2 separate regions of the Homo sapiens genome follow, and region 2 is linked to region 1. The links come from fine-mapping of genetic effects on gene expression. Tissue or cell type: visceral fat. Region 1 holds a variant in brackets; the other region holds the start of a gene. All regions are shown on one strand. Distances are between the middles of the regions.

Region 1 (2,846 bases):
CTGAGCAACACAGTGAAAACCCATCTCAAAAAAAAAAAAAAAAAACCAAAAAAACTGTCCAGCTGTGGACTTTCAGGATTCAGGACTGCTGGGGATCAAGCCCAAGGATGTTTTTCAGAGCTCTGTGATTTAAGATGCTCGAAAAGAGTGTCCAAGAGGAGTAAAGGTCATGACAGAATTTACTCCCAGGACAATCTAAGTTCTGCCACAAGTACCCGTGGTGTCTGTTCCCACAACAATGGCCCTTTCACAAGCTCTTGCCTCACAACCCCTGCAGAAGTCCTTCAACAAAACTAATAATAGACTAGTGAAACCTACTCCTCACATGGGTAAGAGTTGCAGTGGGCAGGTGACCCTCCTCCCTGCCCCCATCCTTTGCTTCCTCAAGCTCCCTGCCAACCTCTGGATACATCAATGGGAAGGAAACCAGGGAAGCATAGACCTATAGTACAACAGGGGTGTAGTGACCACTGGACCTGATGAAGCGAATCTGCCTGAAATTTAATACGCCTTTTTATTTCCCTTCTGTGTTAAATCAAATGATCTGTTCTGCACTGAGCCAAGCAAGTTACTTTTAAAACTGGTGGCACCACTCATTTGGGACTTGGAGACTGCTTTTATCCAGAACCTGTTAAGAGAACAGGGGATTTAAATACAAAGGAATATGAAGGTGGTGTGCCTTAAAGACAGTCTAAAATTAGGTTTTAGTTTGTTACATTATTTTGAAATATTAAACATGAAAATGTTAAATCAGGATGTGTGAGTTTTAAGATGTTGAACACTGTCCTACATCAGTGAGGAGGGAGGCAATAAAGTAATTTCAGAGTAAAACAGATTGAGGATGAAACCAAGACAGAAGTGATGATTTGGCTTTTTATGATTTTTGCTGTGGAAATGGCAGTCGTGTGACTTTTCACTTGCAGTTTAAATGAAAGGGTGAAGAGAAGCCTACCTGCCCTAATGGCTCAGGGCTATATCCACCTCCCGGATAACCCTGGCCCTTGGGACTCCATCATCTCCTTGAAGTAGCACTGAGAATCCAAGAAGAGGCTCCGCTGCTTTTTGCACATGTTACTGAGTTACATCTCAGGAAGATTTTTAAGCACGAGGAAGGAAAATACAGGCCTGGCCAAGCAGGGTCCCCTTTTCGGTATCATCTTTGTTCCTAATAAGCAATCA[AG/A]GGGGGTGGGTGTGTTGGCTGGTAAAGGAACTACTAAGATTCAGAAGCTTGTAGTCTTCATTATTTTGTTTTACAGGTTAAAATAAACCACTTGACTGGGCACGGTGGCTCACACCTGTAATCCCAGCACTTTGGGAGGCCGGGGTGGGCAGATCACAAAGTCGGGAGTTCGAGACGAGCCTGGCCAACACAGTGAAACCCCATCTCTACTAAAAATACAAAAAAATTAGCCGGGCATGGTGGTGGGCACCTGTAATCCCAGCTACTCGGGAGGCTGAGGCAGGAGAATGGCTTGAACCTGGGAGGCAGAGGTTGCAGTGGGCAGAGATTGCGCCACTGCACTCCAGCCCAGGCGACAGTGCGAGACTCTGTCTCAAAAAAGAATAATAATAATAAATAAACCACTCAGTATTGCTGCTTCTAAGTTCAGACAGATAATCACATCTGAAGGAAGTTATTTCAGGGCTCCAAGAGAAACTTAGATTTTCTTATAACCTATAATATTTTACATATACAAGTCGAATGGAAATTATAAGCATTTCTAATATGACAAATAGGGAAGTTTAGCTTTACAAGTAATGTATTTTGCAATTTTGTGCCATTCGAAAAAGGAAGACTGAATTTAGAACAGTCCTATTATCTCCTAATAAAAACTTAGTATCCTCTAGGTAGGTGCACAGAGTGCCTCTGCCTTTGAGATGACGGGCATTAATCTCAGGAAGGAACACAAAGCATGTGTTCCAATCAGAAACTAAATATATTTTGTTGAATTAAGTAAATCCACTTAGGAGGGAATATAAGGACTATTGACAACATTAACACAAGCCAAAGGTGGACCAATATATCCCAAAATCAAAGGACAAGGCCAGTGCCATACACCTACAGATGCAGAAGCTGCCCCTTTTGTGATTCCAGATGTGTTGCCCAGATAAAAGTGCCTCCTCAATTTCTTTGTGAACACACAATCCCCAACAAACAGTTGTAATTTTGAAGAAAGTTGACATTTTTATGTAGAGATGGTGGTCTTCATGGAGTAAAAGAATTTGTTAGTGCTTATGCAATATGACAGTTGTACTAATCTTTAGAAAGATGAACTGAGAAAGTTCTCTGGGTTTTATAGCAATCTACATCAAATACACAACAAAACTATTTAATCTCTTCATTAAGATTCCAGGCTCCCCATCCCCCCACTTTGAAGGGATTCACAGCCCAGGTACTAGAAAGAACTAAGCTCCATTACCAGTGTTTTAGAACTGTCAGCTGTGACCCATAGAGGGCTGCTGAATTAACTTGTGGGTAGAGACCAACATTTTAACAAGTCACTAGAACGATATATCCCCAATTATAAATACATGTGGCACTTTGGCTTGTATATTACTCTTTTGAGTCTGAGCAGCAGGAATCAATTCACCAAAACCTTCAAAGGCAAAAAGCAGGCTGTGGACTTCTGGTGACGCAATTCACAGCCTGGAAACTGTGAGCTAGAAGTTCCTACTTCTGCTGTTGTTGTTTCTCAAGGATATTTTCTGTACATACAACAAACTAGAATTTTTTTTTTTTGAGACGGAGTTTTGCTCTTGTTGCCCAGGCTGGAGTGCGATGGTGCGATCCTGACTCACTGCAACCTCCACCTCCCAGGTTCAAGCGATTCTCCTGCCTCAGCCTC
Region 2 (2,673 bases), 57 kb after region 1:
AATTCCAGGCTGCAGTGATTGCACCACTGCACTCAGACCCTGTCTCTAAAAAACAAAATTTAAATCAAGTCACTCACTTGTTCAAAAATGTGCAGTGAGGCCAGGCTCAGTGGCTCACACCTGTAATCCCAGCACTTTGGGAGGCCAAGGTGGGAGACCTGTTTGATTCCATACCAAATAATTGAGACCACCCTGGGCAACATAGTGAGACCTAGGTCTCTACAAAAAATTTAAAAATTAGCCAGGTGTGTGCCTGTAGTCTCAGCTACTCAGGAGGCTTAGGTGGGAGGATTGCTTGAGCCTAGGAGGTCGAGGCTGCAGTGAGCTGTGATCGCACCACTGCACTCAAGCCTTCGCAACAGACCAAGACCTAGTCTCAAAAAAAAAAAAAAGTGCGCAATGACTCCCGTTGCCAATTCAAAGAGCTTTTATGAATGTTTCAATATACTTGTCTAGCGTATGTGCCTGTTTTTGGACTCAAAGTGGCCACCATAGGTGGGAGATCAAGTTGGCAACAATAGTGTTCCAAGGTAATACACCCTATATCTTGCTCTGTACCCCAGGCTGGAGTGCGGTGGCTCAATCTTGGCTTGCTGCAACAACCGCCTCCCAAGTTCAAGCGATTCTCCTGCCTCAGCCTCCCGAATAGCTGGAACTACAGGCGCGCGCCACCACGCCCGGCTAATTTTTTGTACCCCTTAGTAGAGACGGGGTTTCACCCTGTTAGCCAGGATGGTCTCAATCTCCTGACCTCGTGATCTGCCCGCCTCGGCCGCCCAAAGTGCTGGGATTACAGGCGTGAGCCACCGCGCCCGGCAAGAATTTTTTTTTTTTTTTTGAGATGGAGTTTCGCTCTTTCGCCCAGACTGGAGTTCAGTGGCACGATCTCTGCTCACTGCAACCTCCGCCTTCCGGTTTCAAGCGATTCTCCTGCCTCAGCCTCCCAAGCCCGGCTACTTTTTGTATTTTTAGTACAGACGGGGGTTTCATCATGTTGGCCAGGCTGGTCTCGAACTCCTGACCTTGTGATCCGCCCGCCGCGGCCTCCCAAAGTGCTGGGATTACAGGCGTGAGCCACCGTGCCCGGCCCCAAGAATTTTTTTTAATAAGAAATTTTGTAGAACCTTCTATAGGCAGTCGTTTTACAGCGGCGAAGAACGGAACCCGGCAGATGACATTGAATAAATGTTGAGTGGACAACTTTGTTCTTTTCCTCTTCCTTGACTCCGCCTCCTTGCTTTCCCTTCATTCTCTTTTGCTCTTGTGCTTTTAAACCCAAAGCGGCCGCCGTAGGCGAAGGTGAAGATGGCTGCCTCTGCCTTTGCTGGTGCAGTGAGAGCAGCTTCAGGTCAGTGGAGAGCGACATACTCCATGCATGCCTTCACAGAAGGGGAAACTGGTGCGGGATGGAATGGGCGTTTAGACTGGAGGTTAACAAGCAAAAAGGGTCATTATTTAAGTTAAGAAGGTTGCGCCCAATTTTCTCTGGGGCGGTGTGACCGGCAGCCCGTACCAAGTCCCCCGACTCGGACTCACGCGGGCCTGTGTGTCACGCATTTGCCGCTTCCTTACCAGCTTTTTTTCCCTAGAAAAGAAGCCAGAGAAACTGGAACGGAGGGGGCGAGGGAAACCAAAAAGTCTCACCTAACTTTCTGATTTAGAGGCTACGACCTGCCATTCACGACCTTTAACCTTGAGAATTAATGTCTCCTAACTTAAGATTCTACACCTCTAAAATGGGGGTCATAACCACCTACCTGGGGATTAAATGAGATAATGCACGTAAAGCGTTTTGGGCAGTGCCTGACACATGGTAAGCTTGAAGGCTAATTTAATTTTTAACTACAGCCCCCGGCACAAGGGCTGGTATGAGGACTTCTTGACTGAGAGATAGCAGAAGTAAAGGCGACTAAATTAAGTTGCCGTGACGTTAAGTACTTTTTGCAAAAAGTTAAAAATCATCCAAATACCATAGGATGCTCAGTAAGTTACTTTCACACAAAATATATTGTTAGGATAACATTTTGTGGGAGAATATACGAGATCAGTCAAGAAAATGCAGCGATGTAAATTTTACCGTTAGAGAAAAGCTTTTTTTATGTGGAGTATTTTTTGTGTTCGCGAAATATAATACATATGAAGAAAATTTTATATAGTATGCATGAATGATTTAACAGTTCTAAAGCAAACACCTGTTTAACACTCAGGTCAAAACAGTGCACTACCAGAAGCCTCCTCTCCCCTATGTATCAAAATTCTCTACTTCCCCCCCAGATATAAACACTGTTCTCATTTTTATAGTTACTATTAGGTTGCCTATTTTTCCTATAGTAGTTTTAGCATCCATATGTGCATCTCAAGAACATAGTTTTGCCTGGTTTTGAACTTCACATGAATTGGTTCATACAGTATATACGCTTTAGTATCTTCTTTTACATTGTGAGATTCATTCATTCATTTTGCGTAGCTGTAATGCTTTCTCATTGCTATATAATTCTTTTTTTTTTTTTGAGACGGAGTTTCTCTCTTGTTGCCCAGGCTGGAGTGCAATGGCACGATCTGGGCTCACTGCAACCTCCTCCTCCCAGGTTTAAGTGATTCCCTTGGAGTAGCTGGGATTACAGGCATGCGCCACCACGCCCAGCTAATTTTGTATTTTTAGTAGAGTTGGGG

Direction of the effects. Alleles are on the strand shown, and positions count from the first base shown. SD is a standard deviation of normalised expression in the study named.
As copies of AG replace A in region 1, the expression in visceral fat of the gene that starts at base 1,272 in region 2 goes up (small effect, 0.21 SD a copy in GTEx).

The links. PIP is the estimated chance that this variant, and not a neighbour inherited with it, causes the effect.
Region 2: MRPL35 starts here. The variant in region 1 is fine-mapped to the expression of MRPL35 in visceral fat (GTEx, PIP 0.92). The same link has a PIP of 0.9 or more in tibial nerve.

Annotation. Positions count from the first base shown.
Region 1 is chr2:86,140,878-86,143,723 of GRCh38, forward strand. It overlaps PTCD3 (pentatricopeptide repeat domain 3), which reads left to right. Exons shown (of 24, transcript NM_017952.6): 24 at 1-1,280. Among named protein-coding and RNA genes, the nearest start is that of SNORD94, 6.4 kb to the left of the region's middle. RefSeq lists a silencer at 289-583. The variant AG/A (reference allele first, on the strand shown) is at 1,180.
Region 2 is chr2:86,198,186-86,200,858 of GRCh38, forward strand. It overlaps MRPL35 (mitochondrial ribosomal protein L35), which reads left to right and starts at 1,272. Exons shown (of 4, transcript NM_016622.4): 1 at 1,272-1,348. The coding sequence starts at 1,306. RefSeq lists an enhancer at 1,091-1,360.